Homo sapiens: one gene and its partners. The protein of the gene in region 1 purifies or fractionates together with the protein of each later gene. This does not show direct contact. Each region holds a gene or a part of one and is shown in the gene's direction. Other genes may lie near its edges.

The links.
Region 2: the proteins of GSTO1 (region 1) and NIT2 fractionate together in Homo sapiens (co-fractionation; one large-scale study listed by BioGRID). This does not show direct contact.
Region 3: the proteins of GSTO1 (region 1) and TAGLN3 fractionate together in Homo sapiens (co-fractionation; one large-scale study listed by BioGRID). This does not show direct contact.
Region 4: the proteins of GSTO1 (region 1) and ACSF2 fractionate together in Homo sapiens (co-fractionation; one large-scale study listed by BioGRID). This does not show direct contact.
Region 5: the proteins of GSTO1 (region 1) and TIGAR fractionate together in Homo sapiens (co-fractionation; one large-scale study listed by BioGRID). This does not show direct contact.
Region 6: the proteins of GSTO1 (region 1) and ACO2 fractionate together in Homo sapiens (co-fractionation; one large-scale study listed by BioGRID). This does not show direct contact.
Region 7: the proteins of GSTO1 (region 1) and HEBP1 fractionate together in Homo sapiens (co-fractionation; one large-scale study listed by BioGRID). This does not show direct contact.

What each region holds. Positions count from the first base shown.
Region 1 is NC_000010.11:104,261,392-104,264,891, forward strand, and holds part of GSTO1 (glutathione S-transferase omega-1), read left to right. Parts: intron 1-1,587; coding exon 1,588-1,686; intron 1,687-3,500. UniProt on the Homo sapiens protein: Exhibits glutathione-dependent thiol transferase and dehydroascorbate reductase activities. Has S-(phenacyl)glutathione reductase activity. Also has glutathione S-transferase activity.
Region 2 is NC_000003.12:100,344,757-100,348,256, forward strand, and holds part of NIT2 (omega-amidase NIT2), read left to right. Parts: intron 1-828; coding exon 829-922; intron 923-1,424; coding exon 1,425-1,499; intron 1,500-3,500. UniProt on the Homo sapiens protein: Has omega-amidase activity. The role of omega-amidase is to remove potentially toxic intermediates by converting 2-oxoglutaramate and 2-oxosuccinamate to biologically useful 2-oxoglutarate and oxaloacetate, respectively.
Region 3 is NC_000003.12:112,011,654-112,014,385, forward strand, and holds the end of TAGLN3 (transgelin-3), read left to right. Parts: intron 1-109; coding exon 110-212; intron 213-1,756; coding exon 1,757-1,898; 3' UTR 1,899-2,232; downstream 2,233-2,732.
Region 4 is NC_000017.11:50,467,718-50,471,217, forward strand, and holds part of ACSF2 (medium-chain acyl-CoA ligase ACSF2, mitochondrial isoform 2 precursor), read left to right. Parts: intron 1-322; coding exon of another isoform or gene 323-1,096; exon of another isoform or gene 1,097-1,163; intron 1,164-3,310; coding exon 3,311-3,418; intron 3,419-3,500. Other genes in the region: CHAD (chondroadherin precursor), read right to left, coding at 323-1,096. UniProt on the Homo sapiens protein: Acyl-CoA synthases catalyze the initial reaction in fatty acid metabolism, by forming a thioester with CoA. Has some preference toward medium-chain substrates. Plays a role in adipocyte differentiation.
Region 5 is NC_000012.12:4,334,713-4,338,212, forward strand, and holds part of TIGAR (fructose-2,6-bisphosphatase TIGAR), read left to right. Parts: intron 1-2,326; coding exon 2,327-2,448; intron 2,449-3,500.
Region 6 is NC_000022.11:41,472,117-41,475,616, forward strand, and holds part of ACO2 (aconitate hydratase, mitochondrial precursor), read left to right. Parts: intron 1-3,500. UniProt on the Homo sapiens protein: Catalyzes the isomerization of citrate to isocitrate via cis-aconitate.
Region 7 is NC_000012.12:12,986,766-12,990,265, reverse strand, and holds part of HEBP1 (heme-binding protein 1), read left to right. Parts: intron 1-850; coding exon 851-989; intron 990-2,933; coding exon 2,934-3,114; intron 3,115-3,500.

The sequences.
Region 1 (3,500 bases):
CAGCCCATCAGAACAGAAATGTACCCCACCCCACACACCTGGGCCAGTTATCTTCTCTCCTGGGAACTTGGAAATGAGACACAGAACTAAGACAGTAAAGGTTAGGACAGTAAAGACAACTAAGCGTTGGGGCTCAAATAATGTTAATTAGAGGCTAGAAAAACCAAAGCCACTTAAGAAATAAATTTTTAGAGGAGCAAGAATTAAAAACATTGCAAAGGGACTGAAGTATGCAAAGTAATATGGAGCAGAAATGTGAGGAAAAACAGACGAAAGACCAGGCAGACCCAGGTGGAAATGTGGATGAAAGGGCTGCCTGAAAGCCTTCAGTCCCAGTGAAGGCAGGCTGAACTGATGTGGATGGGATTTCATGGGATTCTATATTTTTACAAGTGCCTGTTTACTTAAACTAGGATGAGTGGACTTCTGCGTCTTGCAATAAAATGATACCAAAGACCAAAGTATTAAAACACATAAACACCATCACGAGCATTAAAGCATCTGATGCTACACCCATCAAGTCTTTAGGTAGTCGGTCCCTTTTGAACAGTCTCCTGGTGTCCTCCCCAACAAAGAAATCAGAAAAATTTTCTTCCCTAGCTCTTTGCAGTTGGGGCCAAGTTTTGTGACCTAGGCTCTTCCTGTCAGACACACACATAGAGTTCAAATCAGAAACGAGCAAGGTAAGGAAACAGGCTTGGTGGGATATCTGCTTAAGATATTCAGCTCTCCACTGGTTTTCCTGGTGAGAGCAGCGGCAGAGCTTCTGGGTTTCAGCAGTGTGGGTTACAAGATAAAATTCCAGAGTAGAAATGGCATCAGTGCCAGTGGTGTTAGCAGTTATCTCAGACTCTACTTTCTGGCAGCCTCACAAACTGAAGCATCTGGTGCTCAGCTTGGACTGGCAGCAGTGAGTGCTTCCCATTAGGCCATTTCTCAGCATGAATTTGGGATGTTCTGTCTTAATTCCAAGCCTGTTTGTTCCGCCTCCCAATAATTCTATGAGCCACTCAGTCTCCTTTAAAGAAAGTTGTGTTGGCCGGGCGTGGTGGCTCAAGCCTGTAATCCCAGCACTTTGGGAGGCTGAGGCAGATGGATCACCTGAGGTCAGGAGTTTTCAGACCAGCCTGGCCAATATGGTGAATCCCCATCTCTACTAAAAATACAAAAATTAGCCTGGCGTGGTGGCGCACGCCCATAATCTCAGCTACTAAGGAGGCGGAGACAGGAGAATTGCTTGAGCCCGGGCAGTGGAGGTTGCAGTGAGCTGAGATCGTGCCACTGCATTCCAGCCTGGGTGATAGAGCATGACTCCATTTCAAAAAAGAAAGAAAGTTGTTTCTTAAACGTGCCAGGGTAGCTTCTGTTATTTGTAATTTATAAAATCCTGACCAAGCCAGCATTTTAGGCCACAAAACTGTTCCTAAGACCAGTCCATTACCTCTGTGAGCGCAGGAACTTGATGCACCCTTGGTGTTTCTAGAACACCTTGACACCAGGACTGTAAGGGTTCTACCATATTTTTATGTGAGGGGGCCGATACAGTTAGCCATAAACTGATAAACTAAGAAATTATTCTCTGTCTAGGTGCCATCCTTGGTAGGAAGCTTTATTAGAAGCCAAAATAAAGAAGACTATGCTGGCCTAAAAGAAGAATTTCGTAAAGAATTTACCAAGCTAGAGGAGGTAATTATTTCTCCTAGCTATCATCAGAGTAAACGATAACTATATCTACCCTCCTTTTCCTCCTATTCTTTTCTTTATATTCCCACTTTCCAAGTCACTTTAAGGTAATTAGGAAAATTCCCCTAAACATTTTTGTTTACAGCAGACTGCTGTTATAAAGCAGAAAGCTGTCCTGCTTAAGATATAAATCAAAACACCTAAACAGACTTTGTCATGGGCTTGCTTTTAAAATATTCTGCTAATGTTAAAATAACAAGGAAAAAGGAAATTGTACCCACGTTTCCACAAGTTTTTATGTATCCAGTTTTCCATGCTTGTTTGCAGTCCTTGTCCATATATTTAAAAAAAATTAATATAGCTCTAATCAGAGCATAGATATCATTCTGTGTCCTGCTTTTTTTCCTGTGTCCACTTAGTATTACATACTAAATATTTCCCACCAGAAAAAGTTTGCAATGAACAGTACAGACACTTGAGGGAAGCCCAGATGTATTTTACCTTCTTTTGGGGACAGCTGACATTTGGGCCTTGGAGTCTGTCTCTTGGCCTTGAAATATTTCATTCATGCTAAGCCTGAAGTTTTTACTGACAGAAGACATAGTTCCTGTCTTTCATGGGAATGCATTTTAACATTTTATCAGTAAGCATGATGTTTGCTGTAGGTTTTTCAGAAACCTTTTTTTCATTATAAAGTTCTCTTCTATTACTAGTTTGCTAATTTTTAAAAAAGTCATAAATGTTGAATTTTATTGAATGGTTTTTCTGCATCTGTTACATCTATTGAAATGTTCATAGAATTTTTTCCTCTTAATCTGGTGAATATGGTGCTATTGACAAATTTTTTTTTTTTTAATGTTTAACCATCCTAGCATTCCTAAGATAAAACCTACTTGTTCTCTATGGATTTTTATATGTACTGTAGAATTAGCTAATGAATGATTTTTGTATGTGTGTTCATAAATGAGATTGGCCTATAAATTTTCTACTCTTATAGTATCATTATTGGCTTTTGGTTTCAAGGATATTCTGACCTCATAAAATGAGTTGGGTAACTAACCTGTTTTTCTAATCTCTGAAACCATTTGGTAGGGACTAGCGGTTTCTTTAAAACATTTGAGCCTGGTGTCTTTAACAGGGGTAGATTTTTCATTACTAGTTTGATTTCTTTAATGGTAATTGGTTTTTTGGTTTTATATTTCTTCTTGAATCAGTGTTGGTACTTTTATATTTTTCTGCTGAACAGTGTGGGAGCTGGAAAGTAAGATGCAGTCCATATTCTTCAGATAATTAGTTTAGTAGTAGACAGAACACAGTAGGTAGATATAAGCAATCTAAAATGCATATTATGCATTGAAAAAAAACTATGGAGGTTATTTATAAAGGGCAAATTAGTTTGGTGGTTTAAATAGCCAGATAATATTCTCAATCACCCCCTTTGGCAAACCCTGTAACCAATTCGCCTTCTTAAAATTTCAGAAACATACAATTTGTGTTTTGTTTTCAAATGATTGTCATCTGTTTAGCAGTTAATCCAGTCTATTTCCAGTATATTTTAAGTACAAATGCTTTTGCACTTACAATGGGGTTACATCCAATAAACCCACCGTAAGCTGAAAATATCATAAGTGGAAAATGCATTTAATAAACCCAACCTACAGAGCATCATAGCTTAGCCTAGCCTGCTTTAAATGTGCTCAGAAAACTTCCATTAGCCTGCAATTAGGCAAAATCATCAAACATAAAACCATCAAACATAAAATATTTATAAAGTGTTGAATATCTCATATAATTTATCGAATACCTGCATCCAAAAG
Region 2 (3,500 bases), on another chromosome or scaffold:
TCTTTCAGCTTCCCAAGTGGCTGGGATTATAGGCATGCACCACCATGTCTGGCAAATTTTTGTATTTTTAGTAGAGACGGGGTTTCACCATGTTGGCCAGGCTGGTCTTGAACTCCTGACCTCAGGTGATTTTTAAATGCCCACCTACTTTCCACCTCTCCTGTCAATTTGTCAGTTTGATTCTGATAAGTATTTTTTTTTTCTTTTTTTTTTTGAGAGAGAGAGTCTTGCTCTGTCACCCAGGCTGGAGTGCAATGGCGTGATCTCGGCTCACTGCAACCTCCACCTCCCAGGTTTGAGCAATTCTCCTGCCTCAGCCTCCTGGGTAGCTGGGACTACAGGCACGCACAACCACCCCCGGCTAATTTTTTTTTCTATTTTTAGTAGAGACAAGGTTTCACTACTTTGGCCAGGCTGGTCTCGAACCCCTGACCTCAGGTGATCCGCCCACCTCGGCCTCCCAAAGTGCTGGGATTACAGGCATGAGCCACCGTGTCCGGCCTGATTCTGAGAAGTCTTTATTTAGCATTTATATTTTTAAAAAGCAACATATTAGTTACCTCCCATGAGAAACCTAGAGGTTGATTTGCAGACTGCTAGAAAATAGGGGTTATAAAAGGTACAGTATCATTTTTCCAGTTCCCTGTGGTAGAATTCATTTTGATAAGGTGTCAGCCAGCTTGTGGGGTGGATTATAAGCAGTTTGGGGGTGCTGTTTGTATAGTTAATCTTAGAGCACCTTCCGTATCTGCCCGGGGAAAGATATTGTCATTACTGCCATGGACCCTGCTGGAAAAGAGGTAACCAAATCCATTATTTGTGATGCAGATCCATCTGTTTGACATTGATGTTCCTGGAAAAATTACATTTCAAGAATCTAAAACATTGAGTCCGGGTGATAGTTTCTCCACATTTGATACTCGTATGTACCAGATAAGTTTGCCTCTTTAGCAATCTCAGTAGAAGACAATCAGGTATTTATTTCTTTTTTGTCTCTCTCCGATTTCTTCACATAACCTAACTGAAAGACCATAAGTGAGAAAGGCAGAGAATCATCACAGATCTGGAAAGTTCGGGCTTATTTGAGAACTAAGGATTTGACACGATTTTGCCCTTTGATTTGATTGTAGCTTCCTGTTACGGCTTCCAGAGTATACCTATTAGGCTACAGTTGAGTACCTCCCATCTAGATAATAAGCATTCAATTAGAATGAATTTCTCATCTTTACTCCGCTGATGTAAATGATGTCTTTATGAGATGAAGTCCAAGTAGGAATGAGCTTGTAAATTATCTCTGTCCTCAGGTCCTGTGTTAATTTATCCCTGTCAGTGTTTTGTGATCATTATGTCATGGAGGATTTCCCCTGCCACACCATGCTGTAGGGAGTTAACTTTTCATTTGTGCATTTTCTGTTTGGAAACAGCTTACTGCAGAGTGGGTCTGGGCATCTGCTACGACATGCGGTTTGCAGAGCTTGCACAAATCTACGCACAGAGAGGTGAGGCAGTGTAATAGCTGTGTTATGTGGGTGCTTGGAGGCTTGGTTCTAGGCTGGTCTATGTGGGATCCTTAGTCAAGAAAAGCTGGGAGAGGGCTCTTTAATTTCTCCATCTTCAGCCCTTTCACCCCCATGAGGCTTCCCAGACTTTTGCTGTGTATGGATGACAGGGTTTTTGGGGGGTTGTAATTAAACACATCATGTAGCTAAGGTAGGAGCTGTGCTCATAAAGGTCTGGTCTACCCTTGAGTCCTTGTTACTGTGTTTGGAGAGTCACTTGAAGCCCAGTAGAAATGAAGTGGATTTCACCACTCAGTACCCCTAGACATTGGGTACAAGTAGAAATGTGGTCTGTGATATTTTGGTCCAGACGAGGAGAAATGTGCCAGTATCTGGGAAGAGCGAGTTCAAAAGATGTGGGTTCTAGTTCCAACTCTTCCCTTTAATTGGCACAGTACTTTGCTAAAATGATTTCACCTCTAGAGCAGTGTGGTTCTCAGTTTAGTCACAGGAATGATATGAGGATTAAGAAGAGAGAACCTATAAAGCCCCTCGTGTGGTACTCAACAAATACCAGCATCCTTACTAGACTGCTTGAAGCTACTTCCAAATAGACTGTCACTTAACCAAGTGAAGTGGGTGGAAATGGTTTGACTGCCTGCTCAGAAGGTGGAGGTGCATGGGCTCTGGGGTCAGTAGTCTCTGTTGAGCCATATATCAATAAGCCTTAGGGCAACTCCTCGGCCCCTAATTTCAGTTGAAAAGAATTACAAAACGTGGTCATTGGCCATGTGGAGCTGACATATGGAGCTGAGATAAATTTGTTTTTTTTTGTTTGTTTGTTTGTTTGTTTTTTTGAGACAGAGTTTAGCTCTTGTCGCCCAGGCTGGAGTGCAATGGTGCAATCTCGACTCACTGCAACCTCCACCTCCCAGGTTCAAGTGATTCTCCTGTCTCAGCCTCCTGAGTAGCTGGGATTACAGGTGCCCACCACCAGGCCCAGCTAATTTTTGTATTTTTAGTAGTTATGGGGTTTCACCGTGTTGGCCAGACTGGTCTTGAACTCCTGACTTCAGGTGATCTACCCGCCTCGGCCTCCCAAAGTGCTGGGATTACAGGCATGAGCCACCGCACCCAGCCAGAGCTGAGAGAAATTTGAATGACAGTTCTCTACCTTATTTTTGTTTGTTTGTTTTGAGGCAGGGTCTCACTGTCACCCAGGCTAGAGTGCAGGCGTGATCATGGCTCACTGAAGCCTTGGTCTCCTGGACTCAAGTGATCCTCCCACCTCAGCCTCCCAAGTAGCTGGGACTCTAGGCATGTGCCACCACACCTGGCTAATTTTTAAATTTTTTGTAGAGATGGGGTCTCTCTATGTCGCCCAGGCTTTCCGTCCTTTTTTTAAGTGAAGTTGATACCGGTGGGCTAGGGGAGGCCCCCAAACACCAGTCTGACCTTGACCCCAGCCAGTGTCCATGCTATTGACACTATTGCAAGAAGGAATTCAAGGATGAGTCAGAAAATAGTGGAAGTATGGAGATTTATTGCAAAGTGAAAAGTACACACTCAAAAAAGGGAGGGTGTGTGTACTCAAGAGAGTCATGCGCAAGGAGGTTTGGGCCATCTACCTTTATGGGTTTCCTTTTTTTTTTTGAGACAGAGTCTCAATCTGTTGCCCAGGCTGGAGTGCAGTGGTGCGATCTTGGCTCACTGCAACTTCTGCTTCACAGATTCAAGCAATTCTCCTGCCTCAGCCTCCCCAGTAGCTGGGATTATAGGCGCTCGCCACCACGCCCAGCTAATTTTTTGTATTTTTAATAGAGGTAGGGTTTCATCATGTTGGCCAGGCTGGTCTCGAACTCCTGACCTCAGGTGATCTGCCCACCTCGGCCTCCCAAAGTGCTGGGATTACAGGCGTGAGCCAGCGCACCCACCGCCTTTATGAGTTTCTTTACCAAGGGGTGAAATATTCATGACGCTTCCTAGAAAAAGGTGGAGATT
Region 3 (2,732 bases), on another chromosome or scaffold:
TCACCTGCAGCCTTCTATCAGAACTTCCCTCCTGGGTGTCCAGCCGTATCCTTCCAGCATTCCTTGGCTCTGACACGTGCTTGGCTTTAAGCTCTTTGTTGGCTTCCAGGGAAGGACATGGCAGCTGTGCAGAGGACCCTGATGGCTTTAGGCAGCGTTGCAGTCACCAAGGATGATGGCTGCTATCGGGGAGAGCCATCCTGGTTTCACAGGTAAAAGCCTCTTCCTTGCCCCCTGGACCACAAGGCGATTTTAACCAGAGGGAGGGTCTGAAGCCTTGGAACTCTACAGAGGCTTTATGTGCAAAGCCCCAGGACCAAGCACTGCTGTCTCCACAACTGAGTTCCCCAAAGCAATGAAAGACTGATGCTTCTGTACAGGCCAGTAACCTAACCAGAGCAGAAATGGTTGGGCCTTTTCTACCAGATACCTCCCAGCTCCACCCAGGTTCTGTTTCTCCTGAGGCTCAGCAGGACTGGATGGCCTTTCTTGAAGGTGGCTTCATGTCTGAACTTGGCTTTATTATGACTTAAGCCAGCTCTGAGCTTTCTTGCCTGCCTGGCTGCTTCCCTCCCTCCCTCCCTCCCTCCCTCCCTCCCTCCCTTCCTTCCTTCCTTCCTTCCTCCTTCCCTCCCTCCCTCCCTCCTTCCTTCCTTCTTTTTTGTTTGTGTACTTAATAAAGGGTAAATATGTCATGTTTGTTTGGAACAGTCATGGTTAATATCTATGTTGTCCCAGTATATCTATTAATAGAACTCTCTTTCACTCTCAACAGCGTCCTAGTCCGGATGACAAATTATATGGTTATCTCTCAGTAAAGGGTCTTTTTTTAAAATGATTTTTTTTTCAGGGGGTAGGGTAGGCAGGAAGCTTAAACTGGGTAATTTAGTTGTAGAAGAGTGCCCTGTGGCAAATAATTGATTATTCATTTCCAGCATCCCCTTTTCTTCTCCTTGACAGTTATTAAAAAAAAAAAAGTTACCAGCTTATGTCATTTTAAAGAACACTCGCCCTGAAAACTTCTGAGAGGTTGGCCATTTGAAACCCTGGTTTTAGTGTCTGTATTATTAGTGAACTACCGTGTTCCCATGTGGCTACACAACCACAATTATGTACTATCTGGCTCTTTACCAAAGTTTGCAGACCTCTAATCTAGAGTGCGACATTTCCCCTCATTAACTCTTAGGTCCCTTGGCTCTAAAAGGGTATATTCATCTTGGCCCTATACAGGGAAAGGGGGAATGGGATTAATGATGTGCTTTGTAAGAAGAACCAATTTTAATTTTCACAAAGGCTTGACGTAGCTGTGAGAGAAAGGGTAAGAAGAAGCAGGCTTCTTCTTAGAAGTCTGAGATGGCCTAAAGTGGTGGGGGAAGAAGGGAGAGTGGGGAGAAAGAGAAACAAGAAAAGCTGAGAGTGAATTCCCCAGAGAGGTAGCCACTGATTCTGCCCTACTCTTTGCTGGAATTCTGGAAAACACCTGGGCTTCTAAAAGATAGGGAGCTCATGCATCATGGTAGGGCCACAGCTCAGGCTAGGGCCAGAGATAGCTCAGAGTAGCGCCACGGCTCAGGGTAGGTCCACAGTGCAGGGTAGGGCCATAGCTCAGAGTAGGGCCATAGCTCATAACCACAGCTCAGGGTAGGACCTGCTGATCTATTTGGGGACCCCCAGCAGAGCCTGTCTAATTGCATATCTTGAAAAGGATTGGAAAACTGTCATAATGACATTATTCCCTCTCACTTTCCTTGTCCAGGAAAGCCCAGCAGAATCGGAGAGGCTTTTCCGAGGAGCAGCTTCGCCAGGGACAGAACGTAATAGGCCTGCAGATGGGCAGCAACAAGGGAGCCTCCCAGGCGGGCATGACAGGGTACGGGATGCCCAGGCAGATCATGTAGGACGCGGCATCCTGCCCCTGGTAGAGAGGACGAATGTTCCACACCATGGTCTCTACGAAAAAGAAATAGTTAGTCACCTTCTGACCTTCTCCTCTTTCTCAAAGCCTTCTGTCCCTGGTTTTTGCAAGTGCTGCATTTCCGCCGAGAATCCGCGTTGCCTACTGCTGCCACCTCCTGTTCATTTAGAACTATGCAAAGACTCCGCTTCCGTTTTCCTGAGCTCCTCGGGCCCCAGAGTCTCTGTTTGATTATTTATTTATTTATTTATTTATTTGCCAAAAATTCTCCTCTTCAACTTATAGAATGCACCTAATAAAGTAATTAGTCTTGTGTCTTACAGTGTAAAGTTCATTCTTTCTCTTAAGGACTCCACAGTCCGGACTGGTTTCTCTTCCATTCAAAGGCCAGAAAGATGGAATTAAGCTTAAGCTGCAGCTGAGCAATATAGGTTAGCTATGAGGACGCTCTTGCAAGATTATCGCGTTTATCTTGGCAATTGGAATAGAAAGTTTAGGAGTCATTTCGCCCACTCTGAGAGCCTAGAGACATAAGTTCAAGAACAAAGTCTTTGACCACAACAAGTTTTTGAGCATGTACTTTGTGCTTATTGTGCTAGACCTGTAGAGGACACAGCCCGGGAGACAAAGCCCGGTTTCTTGAGAAGCTCTTGTATAGGTGCCCAGGAAGTATCTGTTGAATGGATGGAAGGAAGAATGGATGGGTGGATGGTTTTATTGAATGGATGGGTGGGTAGATGACTGGATGAATGAGCAGTTTTCACTTCTCTAGCATTCATCTTCCTCTTACAGACGAGACCCTAGGTCCGATGCTGAC
Region 4 (3,500 bases), on another chromosome or scaffold:
AGGAAGAGGTGGCTGCTGCTCACAGTTGGGGGTTTGGAAGCACTGGAGATGGCCCTAGGGGGCCTTTTGTGGGGCCAGGGCAGTCCCACTCCTTTTATATGTAAGAATCCTAGGAGGGCAGTGGTCGAGACTGGCAGCAGACAGGGATTAGGGTAGGGATGTGACAAGGCGAGGAAGGGAGGTGGCAGAGCTGCTCACCTTGGAGATAGCCAGAGGGACAGGGAACCTGGGGACGGGGGATGGTGCCAGCTGTGGCCCTGGCTCCTGGGGCCTCCAGGAAGGGAAGAAGGAACCAGGGCAGAGCCCACAGCCAGGAGCTCACCTTCTCCAGGTTGGTGTTGTCCAGCCAGAGGGTCTCCAGGTATCTGCCAAAGGACTGGAAGGCATTGTCCGGGATGCTTTTCAGGGGGTTGTGGGACAGCTTCAGCTCCTCCACCACCCGTAGCTTGCTCAGGGCAGCTGAGGGGTAGCTGGACAGCTGGTTCCTGTCCACGTGGAATTTGGCGAGGTTCTCCACGTCGTCCAGGGCCCCGGGCTGCAGGGAGCTCAACGCGTTTTCCGACAGGTAGAGCCAGCGCAGGTCCTTGGCTCCCTGGAAGGCGCCTGCGCGCAGCTCACGGATCTTGTTGTTGTTGAGCTGCAAGATGAAGAGGTTGACCAGCGGGGAGAGCAACCCCCGGGGCAGCTCAGTGACCTTGTTGTGGTCCAGGTAGAGGTAGGTCAGCTCGGTCAGGTCGTCGAAGGCACCTGCGCGCAGCACGCGGATGTCGTTATGGGACAGGTACAAGTAGATAAGTTGCTTGAGGCCGCGGAAGGCACCGGCGGCCACCTCGCGGATCTGGCAGTGCTGCAGGTGCAATGACACGAGGTTCGGCATGGCCCGGAACGAATTGGCAGCCAGCACCGGGAAGTTGTTGCGCTGTAGGTTGAGCAGCTTGGTCTTCTCTGACACCTTGGGGATCTTCTGCAGCCCCACCTTGTCGCAGATGACGTGCTGCAGGTCGCTGTGGCAGTGGCAGTTCTGGGGGCAGGCGGCCAGCGCCGGCAGCAGACCAGCCAGGAGGCCGAGGCTGAGCAAGAGCATTGGGCGGACCATGGCTGGGACGCCTGGGGCCGGGGCTGGGGGCAGCAGCGGCGGCGGGGCGCGGGCAGCGGCGAGTCCTAGGCGCTCGGGTCTGCCGCCCTCTTTATACGGTGGCCCTGACCGCAGCCGGCAGCCGAGCCAGCTCCTACGTGGAGCATCGAGGCCACTGGGCTTAACTCGCTCGCGCCCAGAGATGCGCCCCCGCCCTCCACGGGGAAGGGGGCGGGGCCGTTCCCCCAGCCGGCTACCGTGCATGAGGGGGTGGGACCGTGGCCCCCGAGCCCCGAGCCCTGAGCCCCGGCTGTAGCCCCCCGCTCTCCTATGGTGCTCCTCTGCCTACCGCCTTTCCCGGGGCTTTTCTGGGAAGGGGGAATAGTTATGTCTGGAGCCCCGAGTTTACATCGGAGAGAGGGAGGCGTTCCCTCAACTTATTTGTTTGCTCAGGTTTGAGCCTCCACGCCGCGCCATCCACACACGCTCGGCCGGGTGCCCTGGATGCGAGGCGGGAGGAAGCGGGGCCGGACAGCTGGATGCGTCTCCCTGCGGTGGGCCAGCTGCCTGCGCTTTAAAGGGGCGCTTGTGCGGCGCCTGCCGAGCGTGAGAGCCGCCCCGGCGTCGGTCTCCCACTTCAGACTCGACGCGCCGAAGCTGGCCCTGGGTAGACCCGAGCTCCTTCCCCACCCTCGGGCGCGCCCCCACCCCTCTCTTCCAACCCCGCTTGCGTTTCTGTCGCCGGCGCCCTCATCCCCTTTTTCCACCGCTGAAGGCTAAGCAGAGAAGTGGGAAGTGGGGGAGAGTGGCCCACAGGAATGGCAAACACACCTGGAAACCACAGGCCACAAGCACAGTCGCACCATCCCCCCTCCTTCATCGCCCCGAAATATCTCCATCCCTCATCCCCAACCCTAGTGGTCAGGACCCGCCCCTGAGGGGTCTCAGGGTGGCGGCTGAGTGGCGCCGAGGTGTACTTGGCAGATGCCACATTCGGGCGGTGGCCCCAGGACTGTGAGGAGGGGTGCGGGAGGGGGTGGGGCAGGTCGAGGGACCAGCCCTGGACGGCTCTGGCTGCCAGACCCTAAGTTCTGTGGGCAGTCCCGCCCCAGCCCGCCAGATTTCTGTGTGCCCACTTGCCAGCCACGATGTCCGGATTCCTGTGGAAAGGGGAGGGTGAGCAGGCAGGGTCACAGCTCTGGCCTCAGGGTGAGCTCCAAGCTGCCTGGCACAGGATATTGTCTGTGATGAGGGGTGGAAGGAGAAACCAGAACCCACATTGAACCAAACCCCAGCCGTGCCAGAGCCAGAGCAGCTGATATGGGGGAAGCTTGGTGCAGGGAGGAGGATGGATGAGATCTGGTATCCGTTGATTAAAGGGGACCTAGGATACGGGGTAACTAGCCTCTCTTCCCTTACCCAGTACCCTCGTGTTGGGGCCTGGTTTCCAGGGCCTGCCCTTTTCCCAAACCTCTCTGCCCCTTGCCTCTAGGATAGGAGGGTCATACTTGGCCTAGACCATTCCTTGATGGTATTTAGGCTTCTCCAAGGCTGGCTTCTGGTTTTTCTGTTGCTCAGGCTTTCCAACCACTGGAAATGGGGGAGGTGGGGTGGGGGTACCACTGGTTTTTAAAATCACTGCTTAGGTTGTTTTTTTATTTTGATGGAAATAAATTCACGGGAAACTCTCCAGAGCTTGGGGGACGCCTGCCCCAAGGCCAGGCACTTGTTCAGGGTTTGCAGAATGCGGGGGTGGGGTTGTGTCTGTGCCACTCCTAGCTGGGCCAAGGCAGGCTGGCTTTCTCATCAAGTTTATGGGGCCTTCAGCTTGGAAGGGAGGAGCCGGGGATGTGGCCTGAAATCAGGAAGGTGGGGTTAAGGCAGCCAGGGGATGGGGGGAGAAGTGTGGGGTGTTGGTAATACCGGAGCCACAGGCACAGACAGGTGGCTGCTCCAGGGAAACGGGGCACTGAGAGAGCTCCAGCTGGAAGAGAATGGTGTCCCTGCTCTCAATTTTCTTTCAGATCTGGGGCCCTGCAGAGATCTAGTCTGCTCACTCCCAGCACCTCTGCCTCCTGACCCCAGGCCCCTACCAATGATGTCTCTGTTTCCACCATTCGGCTGCCCTCCACTTTCCCTTTTCTTTTATGAATTCCTTCCCATTTCCTCAGATAGCTCACCTGATCCCTCTGCACGTGCTGAGCCCTCTTCAAACACCCTTTCTGGACCCTCTAGGTTGCTTATGGAACCACAGAGAACAGTCCCGTGACATTCGCGCACTTCCCTGAGGACACTGTGGAGCAGAAGGCAGAAAGCGTGGGCAGAATTATGCCTCACACGGAGGTGAGCCCCTGACCAAGACTCCAAAGTCCCACCTCCCGTCACCCAGCTGGGGTGCACCCAGCTGGGACATCGGTTGCTTTCA
Region 5 (3,500 bases), on another chromosome or scaffold:
GAGCAGCTGGTGGTAAACATAGTGGCTTCAGTCGGTACACACTTGTAACTGATGATTCTCTCAGCACTTGGAAGATAGCATTCTGCAGTTTTGGTTCCATTTTTCCTGTTAAGAGATTTCTATCAGCTAAATGGTGTTCCATGGTAGGAAATATGTCTTTCTCTGTAACTTCCTTTAAACTCTTCAATTTTGATATTCTTTAGTTTCTCATAATATATCTAGGAGGAATTTTTTTTTTAATGTATCCTGCTTGATGTACATGTGTTTTCTTATTCTGTGAAATTCTTAGCTATTTTCTTTTCATATTCCTCTCCTTCATTTTTTCTGTTCTTTTATTTTTTTGAGACGGAGTTTCACTCTTGTTGCCCAGGCTGGAGTGCAGTGGTGTGATCTTGACTCACTGCAACCTCCGCCTCCTGGGCTCAAGTGATTCTCCTGCCTCAGCCTTCCAAGTAGCTGGGATTACAGGCGTGCTCCACCATGCCCAGCTAATTTTGTATTTTTAGTAGAGACAGGATTTCGCCATGTTGGCCAGTCTGACTTTGAACTCCTGACCTCGAGTGATCCACCCCCTTCAGCCTCCCAAAGTGCTGGGATTGCAGGCGTGAGCCACCATGCCCGGCCATTTTTTTTTTTTTATTCCTTTAGAGTTCCAATTAGATGCATGTTATAGACTGAATGTTTTTCTTCCCAAAAGTTACATGTTGAAATCATAACTCCCAATATGATGACATTAGGAGGTGGGGTCTTTGGGTGGTTATTAGGTCACAAGGGTGCAGCCCTCATGAATGGAATTTATTCAAGAGACACCAGAGAGCTCTTTCCTCTTTGTGCCATGGGAGCACTGAAGGAGAAGTCAGTAGCGTGTAATGTGGAGAGGCCCTCACCAGAACCCAACCATGATGGTACCCTCATCTCAAACTTCCAGCCTCCAGAACTGTGAGAAATAAATATCTGTTGTTAACAAGTCACCCAGTCTGTAGTACTTTGTTACAGCAACTAAGACAAGGCATCGTTAGGAGTTCTCATTCTTTCCTTTAGAACTCTAATATATCTGAGCTATGCTCTATCTCCTTGTATCTGTGCCGTGTACTGGGTAATATCTTCTGCTCTGTCTTTGAGTTCATTAAACCTCCTTTCATCTGAATCTCTGTTTATCCATTGAGGGGCCCTCCAGCCCCCAGCAATCCTGATTTTTATTATTAAAAGATCTATTTGGTTATTTTAGAAAATTGTCTACTTATTTTTGATGCTTACTGTTACTTGCTTATTTTTGTGACTCTGTCTTTATGTTTTATTCATAGTTATTGTAAATTCCCTATTTGCTGATTTCAATGTCTGAAGTCTTGATGGGTGGCTTTGGTTTATGGTAGATTATTTTCTTGTGTGTTGAATCTTTGGCTAAACAATTATTTGTTCTAAATTAGTGGAAAACCTGTTAGCCTCTTTTGAGAATGCTTTGCTCTGAAAAGGATTTGCATTTTATTTTACCACAGGCCTGAGGCTGCATTAAGTCTCCTTACAGGAGCCCTCGCTCCCAAGAATGTTGTGTTTAGTCCTCCCGCTTGCCGTCCCCTCCAGCAGGCCTCCTCTCCCAGCCCCACCAGCGTGTCCTCATAGTCCACCACCTTCATTTTTTTCATGTCGGTATTCACAGTTCAGCTCAGGGCTTTGGGGTTGCTTTACTTTGTCCCTTGGAGATTTTTTGTATGTTCTGTGGGCCCAGCAATGCAGCACACACACACACACACACACACACACACACACACACACACACACACACTCACACACATACACCATTTAGATCTTTAGTAGGAGGTCCCTTCAGAGTGTCCAGCCAACCGTTATCCTGGAAATAGAGGTTTCAAAGCATTTTTAAAATGAAAAAGACAAAGAAATGGAGGGAGGAAGGAAAGAGGAAAAGTAATACCATTATAATACTGAGCATTTGGATGATGGGAATAAAGAAGGAAAAAACTTTTAGATGATGGTCCTACCGCCCCAACACAGTACCTGTAAGATCAGAGCCAATTAATGAAGAGAGGGGCAAACATAAAAGAGGGAAAAGCTAAGACATTTCTATCTCATCATCACCTAATTCCCATTAGGCAAGCATTCTTTTGGAAAATAATTGAATACCTGAGCCTTTAAAGACTTAAAACTTATTTTTACTTGCTAATAACTCCCTGAAAAGTTACGTGGAAGAGTACTTAAAAAATCTTTCATTAAAATTTAGATAAATGCAGCTTATATTTTCTACATGTGATTTATACATCTCTGATATGTAGTTTTGAATGTTATTGTTCCTCTTCTTAATATATCACAGGACAAGGAGTAGATGAACCTCTTTCAGAAACTGGATTTAAACAAGCAGCAGCTGCTGGTATATTTCTGAATAATGTGAAGTTTACTCATGCTTTCTCCAGTGATCTCATGAGGACAAAGCAGGTACATTTATTTATTTATTTATTTTGAGACAGAGCGTCACTCTATGCCCAGGCTGGAGTGCAGTGGTGCAGTCTCTGTTCACTGCAACCTCCATCTCCCGGGTTCAAGTGATTCTGATGCCTCAGCCTCCCAATAGCTGGGATTACAGGTGTGTGCCACCACACCTAGCTAATTTTTGTATTTTTAGTAGAGATGGGGTTTTGCCATGTTGCTGGTCTCAAACCCCTAACCTCAGGTGATCCACTTGCCTCAGCCTCCCAAAGTGCTGGGATTACAGGCGTGAGCCACCACGCCCAGCAACAGGTGAGTTTAGAGTCAAGGTCTAGGCTGATGTGCCAAAAGTCTCAACAATTGTATAATCTTGAAAAATCTGCTACCAGAGTCTGTAGGGAATTAAATCCCAAACAGACATGACCTTCCTCAACAGAACTTATTTATTTTAATTTTATTTTGTACTTTTTAAAAAAAATAATTTTTAAATTAGAGTAGCCTAGAAAAAAAAGTCCAGCAAGAATATAAATAAGCTATTATGAGAGAGAGCAGGGAAAATGACAGGAGAAATTAATCCACTGTGACATCAGGTATTAGGATTACCAGATAGAGTAAGAAACCACTATGTCACTGTAAAGAAATAAAAGACTTGTTAGAAATATCTTCAGGGAACAGATTACTATAAAAATGAAAAACCAGTTGGGCATGGTGGCTCATGCCTGTGATCCCTGCACTTTGGGAGGCCGAGGCAGGTGGATCACTTGAGGTCAGGAGTTCAAGACCAGCCTGGCCAACATGGTGAAACCCTATCTCCACTACAAATACAAAAATTAGCCAGGTGTGGTGGCGTGCACCTTAATCCCAGCTACTTGGGAGGCTGAGGCAGGAGAATCGCTTGAACACAGGAGGCAGAGGTTGCAGTGAGCCAAGATCGTGCCGTTGCATGGTTGGGCTACAGAGCAAGACTCTTGTCTCGAAAATAAAAAAAAAGTAAAATTAAAAACGAACCCAGTCTACTTCTAAAAACTCCATGGAAGGAGAGTTTTGTGACCAACTGTGAG
Region 6 (3,500 bases), on another chromosome or scaffold:
GGCCAAGGCAGGTGGATCACAAGGTCAGGAGTTCGAGACCAGCCTGGCCAATATGGTGAAACCCCATCTCTACTAAAAACACAAAAATTAGCTGGGTGTGGTGGCAGGCGCCTGTAGTCCCAGCTACTCGGGAGGCTGAGGCAGAAGAATCCCTTGAACCCAGGAGGCGGAAGTTGCAGTAAGCCGAGATCGCGCCACTGCACTACAGCCTGGGTGACAGAGTGAGACTCCGTCTCAAAAAAAAAAAAAAAAAATTGCCTGGGGCTTTATCAGTAGTTGTTAGTAGGTATGGTTTGAATCTGGACATGTCTGATTCCGAAGCCTGAGGGCTTAGCAACTGGCACTATGCTGCTTCCCTTTGGCATCGAGCTCAGCCTGTGGATCAGGGCACCATAACCTCAGAACAGTGCCAAGTTGAATGTGTACTCTCGTTTGACAGTACCTGCTACCAGGTAGTAAGATTAGAAATAAGAAAATAGAACGTGGGTTTTGTTTTATTTTGTTTTGTTTTTTTAAAGAAATGGGGGTCTCGCTATGTTGCCCAGGCTAGTCTCAAATTCCTGGGCTCAAGCAATCCTGGCTTGGCTTCCCAAAGTGCTGAGATTACAAGCGTGAGCCACTGCAACCAGCTAAGGAGGTGAGATTTTTGAAAAACCACATTTATTCTCTGGTTTTTAGCATTTATTTTTGTGCATATGACTGAGTAGTACACAAGAGGGGCTGAGCAGTTGCAAGTATGTTTATTAGGTGTTTGGTTTTGCCTTGAGATAACTGGGGTGCTGAGGTTTCATGTGACCTTGGGGGAAGTCATGTAACCTCTTGCATATAAATTTGTGATGGCAGTTAACTACAAAAATATTTGGCAGAAACTCTGTGCCATGTTAAAATAAAATCTTGGTTTGAATTGTGAAACAGATGATTCTGGTTGTATGGTCACTGTGATAACCTTCGCAGATATCAGTTGTTATTAGAATTGAGTGAATGAATTGGTAAATAAGCTTCCATCTTAGATGTGGACAGAGGGAACAGACACACCATCCTGAGGATTAAGGGAGCACAGCATTACCTTTCAAACCAACTGCTTCACAGTGTTCTTTGAAAGCTTTGGCTGGGCTCGGTGGCTCACGCCTGTAATTCCAGCACATTGGGAGGCCAAGGCAGATGCATCACCTGAGATCAGAAATTCAAGACCAGCCTGGCCAACATGGTGAAACCCAATAGCTAATAAAAACACAAAATAAGCCGGGTGTGGTGGCACATGCCTGTAATCCCAGCCACTCGGGAGGCTGAGGCAGGAGAATCACTTGAACCCAGGAGGTGGAGGTTGCAGTGAACCGAGATCACGCCATTACACTCCAGCCTGGGCAACAAGAGTGAAACTCTGTCTCAAGAAAAAGAAAGAAAAAGCTTAATGTCTAGCACTGCCTAGCATTGTTCTAGACACTGGGGGTGCAGTAGTGAACAAGAATAGTGGGGCTTAAATTGTTGTCCTGGGGAAATTACGTAGAAAAATAAGAATATTGTATTACTGAGTGTTGTGGGGAAGATAAGGTAGAGAGAATAGGGGTGGGAACATGGCATTTTTAACTGGGGTGTTTGGGGAAGACCTCGTAGAAGAGGTGACATCTGAACTGGGACTTAAATGATACGAACGCAGCTGTTTACCATTTTTGGAGGAGACTTCAAATAGAAGGAGCATGTGCAGAGCACCCACCTAGGTATGAGCTGAGTGTGTTGAGGATAAGAGCTAAGGCCAGTGTTGCTACAGTGTCCTGAGGAGCGAAAGGTCTGAACAAGAGGCTGGGGCTAGGGTCAGGCAGGCTTCGGTAAGGAAATCCAAGTGTAGTGAAAACTGGGAGATTTTAAGCCAGGGAGTGATGTGATCTGATCATCTGGGCTGCTGCGTGCATGATGGACCATAGAGGGTCAAAAGGAGGAGGCAGGGAGACCAGTGGGGGACTGTTGGAGTCATCCCAGGAATGGCAGAGGAGTCTGGGACTAGGGATCTGGGGGGTGGAGATAATGAGATGTATTCAAAATTGGGATATATTTGGAGGCAGATGGGTTGGCGCATGGGAGGGATAGAGAATAAGGGTGACTCCTGGGTTTGGGGTCTTAGTAACTGAGGGATGGGTGAGCTTGATTGAATTCAGTGGTCGTGTGTTTGCAGTCATTTTTTTTTTTTTTTTTTTTTTGAGACAGGGTCTCGCTCTGTCACCCAGGCTGGGGTGCAGTGGCGCGATCTCGGCTCACTGCAAGCTCTGCTTCCTGGGTTCATGCCATTCTCCTGCCTCAGCCTCCCGAGTTGCTGGGACTACAGGCGCCTGCCACCACGTCTGGCTAATTTTTTGTGTGTTTTTAGTAGAGACGGGTTTCACGTGTTAGCCAGGATGGTCTCAATCTCCTGACCTCATGATCCGCCCGCCTCTGCCTCCCAAAGTGCTGGGATTACAGGCGTGAGCCACTGCGCCTAGCCTTTTTTTTTTTTTTTTTTTTTTTTGAGACGGAGTCTCACTCTGTCACCCAGGCTGGAGTGCAGTGGCGCGATCTTGGCTCACTGCAAGCTCCGCCTCCCAGGTTCACGCCATTCTCCTGCCTCAGCCTCCTGAGTAGCTGGAACTACAGGCGCCCGCTACCATGCCTGGCTAATTTTTTTTTGTATTTTTAGTAGAGACAGGGTTTCACTATTAGCCGGGATGGTCTCGATCTCCTGACCTCATGATCTGCCTGCCTCGGCCTCCCAAAGTGCTGGGATTACAGGCGTGAGCCACTGCACCCGGCCTGCACAGTACTTATAAAAATTAGCTAAGGGCAGAATCTCATTGATAAATTTTTGATTCTTTCATCAGTTCTCAAGTACTTTATTTCACAGGTGAGAAAGCCAGATGACGTCAAGTGTCTTACCCAGGGGCCCTCACTTGAGTCGAGTATGAGCATATTGTCTCATGTGGACTCTGTCCTATCTGGTCTTATTGTGAAACCTGGTGTGTGTCCAAGAGGGCCATCTTGTAAATGCTTACCTTTTTTATAAAAAAAAAAAAATTGTTTTTTCCTTTTTTTTTTTTTTTTTTTTTGAGATAGGGCCTCATTCTGTCAGCCAGGCTGGAGTGCAGTGGTGTAATTATAGCTCACTGCAGCCTTGACCTCCTGGGCTCAAGCAGTCCTCCCACCCCAGCCTCCCTAGTAGCTGGGACTAGAGGCATGTGGCACCATGCCCAACTAATTTTTTATTTTTTGTGGAGATGGGGATCTTGCCATGTCACCCAAGCTGGTCTTGAACTCCTGAGCTCCCAAAGTGCTGGGATTATAGGCGCGAGCCACTGTGCCTGGCTAGTGGGAAGAGAGTGTTGAGTCTTCCTTGGCTCCAGCTTTCTTTGACTTGCCTCGTTTTCCCAGCACCTGGTTTGGAAGGCAGTGGTGGGCTCTGGGCCTCTCAGCATGAAGGAAGGAAGGTATTGTAGAGAGACTTCTTGTAGCCTTTAAAAAGCAGCAAATGGGCC
Region 7 (3,500 bases), on another chromosome or scaffold:
GCTCAGGAGGTCGAGGCTAGTGAGCCATGATCATACCACTGCACACCAGCCTGGGTGACAGAGTGAAACACTGTCTCAAAAATAAATAAATAAATAAAATACATGTGTGTGTGTTTGTGTGTGTGTGTGTGTGTGTGTGTGTGTGTGTGCACAGAGAGTAGCAACTATTTGCTTGGCTTTTACATTGTATTAAGTATTATAAGTAATGTAGAGATGATTTAAAGTATGTATGAGGATGTGTGTGGGTTATATGCAAAATACTACACCATTTTATATCAGGGACTTGAGCATCCATGGATTTTGGTATCCATAGAGGTCCTGGATCCAGTCCCCCAAGGAGGCCAAGGGAAAAATGAACTCTGATTCCTTGAATTGCAGTCCTCCTACTAGAATGAGCCTAATTTTGGGAGCTTCACAGTTTTGTTGGATTGTCATCGTTGTATTTTTTGTTTCCTCCCTTCTAAGTTTATCTGTATTTTTTTCTGAATCTCCTGTTTAACTTTATCTTCCAACCTGTTTACTGAATTTTTCTTCTCTGTTATCAGATTTTTAATTTCTGAGAGCTCTTTTGCTCTCTGAATGTTCCATTTTTGTAGCATTCTGGTTTTCAGGATGCAATATCTTCTCTTATCTCCCCAAGAATATAATGTATAAGATTTTCCTGCTTTGGATATTGTCTCTACAAGAATCCCAGAATCTATTTCTCATGGCCCTTCATACTCAGGCCTGTCCCTTCTGCTCTATGGCCATACCCACCAAGGAAAGTTTTTTAGCCCTCTGTTACTACTTCTAGAGACATCACAAGTTGCTACTTTGTACCTCTTAAACACTGTACCTTCTCTCTCTCTAGGAAGAAGTTGCCTATGAAGAAAGGGCCTGTGAAGGCGGCAAATTTGCCACAGTAGAAGTGACAGATAAGCCTGTGGATGAGGCTCTACGGGAAGCAATGCCCAAGGTCGCAAAGTATGCGGGGGGCACCAATGACAAGGGTGAGTACCCCTGCAGGATGTGGCTCTGGTCTCGGGGACCAGCTTTGCAAGGTCTCACTTCATCAGTGGTAAATGCAAGTGAGGGGCTACAAGGCACCTGTAGTGACCTGTTTCAATGACCTGTGAACCTCCTGCACTGTGTGAACAAGCAGTTTATTGCAGGAATGTGGGGAAACCACTCTGATATCAGCCCAGTCTGTCCCTCACTTGAAGGCATCCCTGCTCAATATCTCCAAGTTCCTGCTTCACTCCCAGGTGTGGGACCATAGGCTCTATTTTTTTTTTAACCCTGCAGTGCTTATTATGTCTTTGGATTGGTTGACTAGGTGGCGTGTGCCCACAGTAAGCTGAGCTACAGCACAACGCAAGGCCAGCATCAGGCTGGAGATCCCCAGAGTCAGCCCCTGGTAGCTCAGATTCTGCTGGGTCCTGAGGCTCAGTGAGCAGTGAGGTTCCAGACCCTGTCTGGCAAATGAAGGGTCTGAGAATTCTTGGGCCATCCTGCTCTTAAAAACTTGGCAGTTCATGCTGGCCACCTCTCTACTTTTAAAATGATAAGCCTGAAGTCTCATGAAAGGTGTACCTGTTAGATGTAAACCATATTTAAAAATGAGTTTGACTCGTGAGAAGCCCTCTAATTTGGGTAGCATTTTGGAATCACTGCAAAACAAAAATGGGTCAGAAAGCAAGAGGAAAAAAAAGAGATGTGTTTAATTTTTAGGATATTTCTCAAGCTGATAATTTAGAGAGCTAAAAACGTGTGTTAGCCTTAGTAACATTTACTAGGAGCTGCTCTGTCTATTGAGTAACCATTCTTTTATTCCTTTACTTACTTAAAAAACTTGCTTTAAAAAAAAAATTTACTAGGACTAAAGTAGTCAGGCTTTGGAAGATACGTTAACCTGTAGGAGGTCAGGAAGAAATCTTTTCCTTCTTAACACTGTCTTAACATTTTTTTAAATGAAAATATGTATGAGAATTATAAAACTCACTAAAGAAAACCTTTAAAATAACAAAACAGTATTCCCTAATTCCCCCATTCAATACAATCAATGTTGTCTTTTGAATGTATTTTTTAGGGCTTTTTAATGTAATCTTAGTGTTCCTATAATTACATATCCTGCTTCTGTTAGTTATTATTTCATAATTATTTTCCACTAGTACCAGAGTCTTCTTAAGCATAATTCCTAGCTACATTATATTGTATCATGTGTCTGTAATTTACACAGACATATTCCTGTTTTGAACAGAATTTATAATTCTGCTGTAATGAATATCTTACTACCTATAGCCTTTTCCATATTTTAGATTGATGTTTTAAATAGGCAGTAATTAAATACTGGCTAGGCATGGTGGCTCACACCTGTAATCCCAGCACTTTGGGAGGCCAAGATGGGCAAATCACTTGAGGTAGGAGTTTAAGACGAGCCTGGCCAACATGGCAAAACCCCATCTCTACTAAAAATACAAAAATAAGCTGGGTGTGGTGGCGCACACCTGTAATCCCATCTACTCAGAAGGCTGAGGCACAAGAATCGCTTGAACCCAGGAACCCAGGAGGCAGAGTTTACAGTAAGCCGAGATCATGCCACTGCACTCCAGCCTGGGCAACAGAGCAAGACTGTCGGAAGAAAGAAAGAAAGAGAGAGAGAGAGAGAGAGAGAAAGAGAGAGAGAGAGAGAGAGAAAGAGACTGATAATCTACAGTCTTGATATATATTGCCAAATCATTTTTTAGAGTTGTACCACTATACTCCTACCAACAGCGTATACAAATAACAGGTGTTCATGTATTTCTGTATTTTTAACACTTGAAATGTTCATTGTTAATTTCAAGAACAAAAACATACCACTTTGAAAGACGAATGGAACTAATGTGTCTTCCACAGCCCTGAGCAAGCTCTGTCTCTGATCCCTGCCTCACTCTGTGCTTTTGTGTTTTCAGGAATTGGGATGGGGATGACAGTCCCTATTTCCTTTGCTGTGTTCCCCAATGAAGATGGCTCTCTGCAGAAGAAATTAAAAGTCTGGTTCCGGATTCCAAACCAATTTCAAAGCGACCCACCAGCTCCCAGTGACAAAAGCGTTAAGATTGAGGAACGGGAAGGCATCACTGTCTATTCCATGTAAGGAGACAATCCTTCAGGCATCCATGGGTGGCGCTTGATTCCCGTACCACTCCTTGCATCACCTCTGGCAAGCATTCGCGTCAAATTTTTATGGTTGCTGAATTAATTTAAGTAGGAAATGCTGAATCCTAACAGTTTCTCATTTTAATTTCTTCAGGCTGCAGCACACACACATTTGCATTTTATCAGAATAAATGCCTTGGCCAGTTGCCAAATTGATGGGACGAGCTTAAGCTTTGCTTAAGCTTACAGTGAATGTCTACATTAGCCATAGCAGGGTTCTAGGAGACTCAGCAAATATCTTAAGTCAAGCCATGGTCTGGATTCGTGGACACATGGGAAGCATAAAGGGCTGAGGAATACCTGATTTCTACCCCACACTC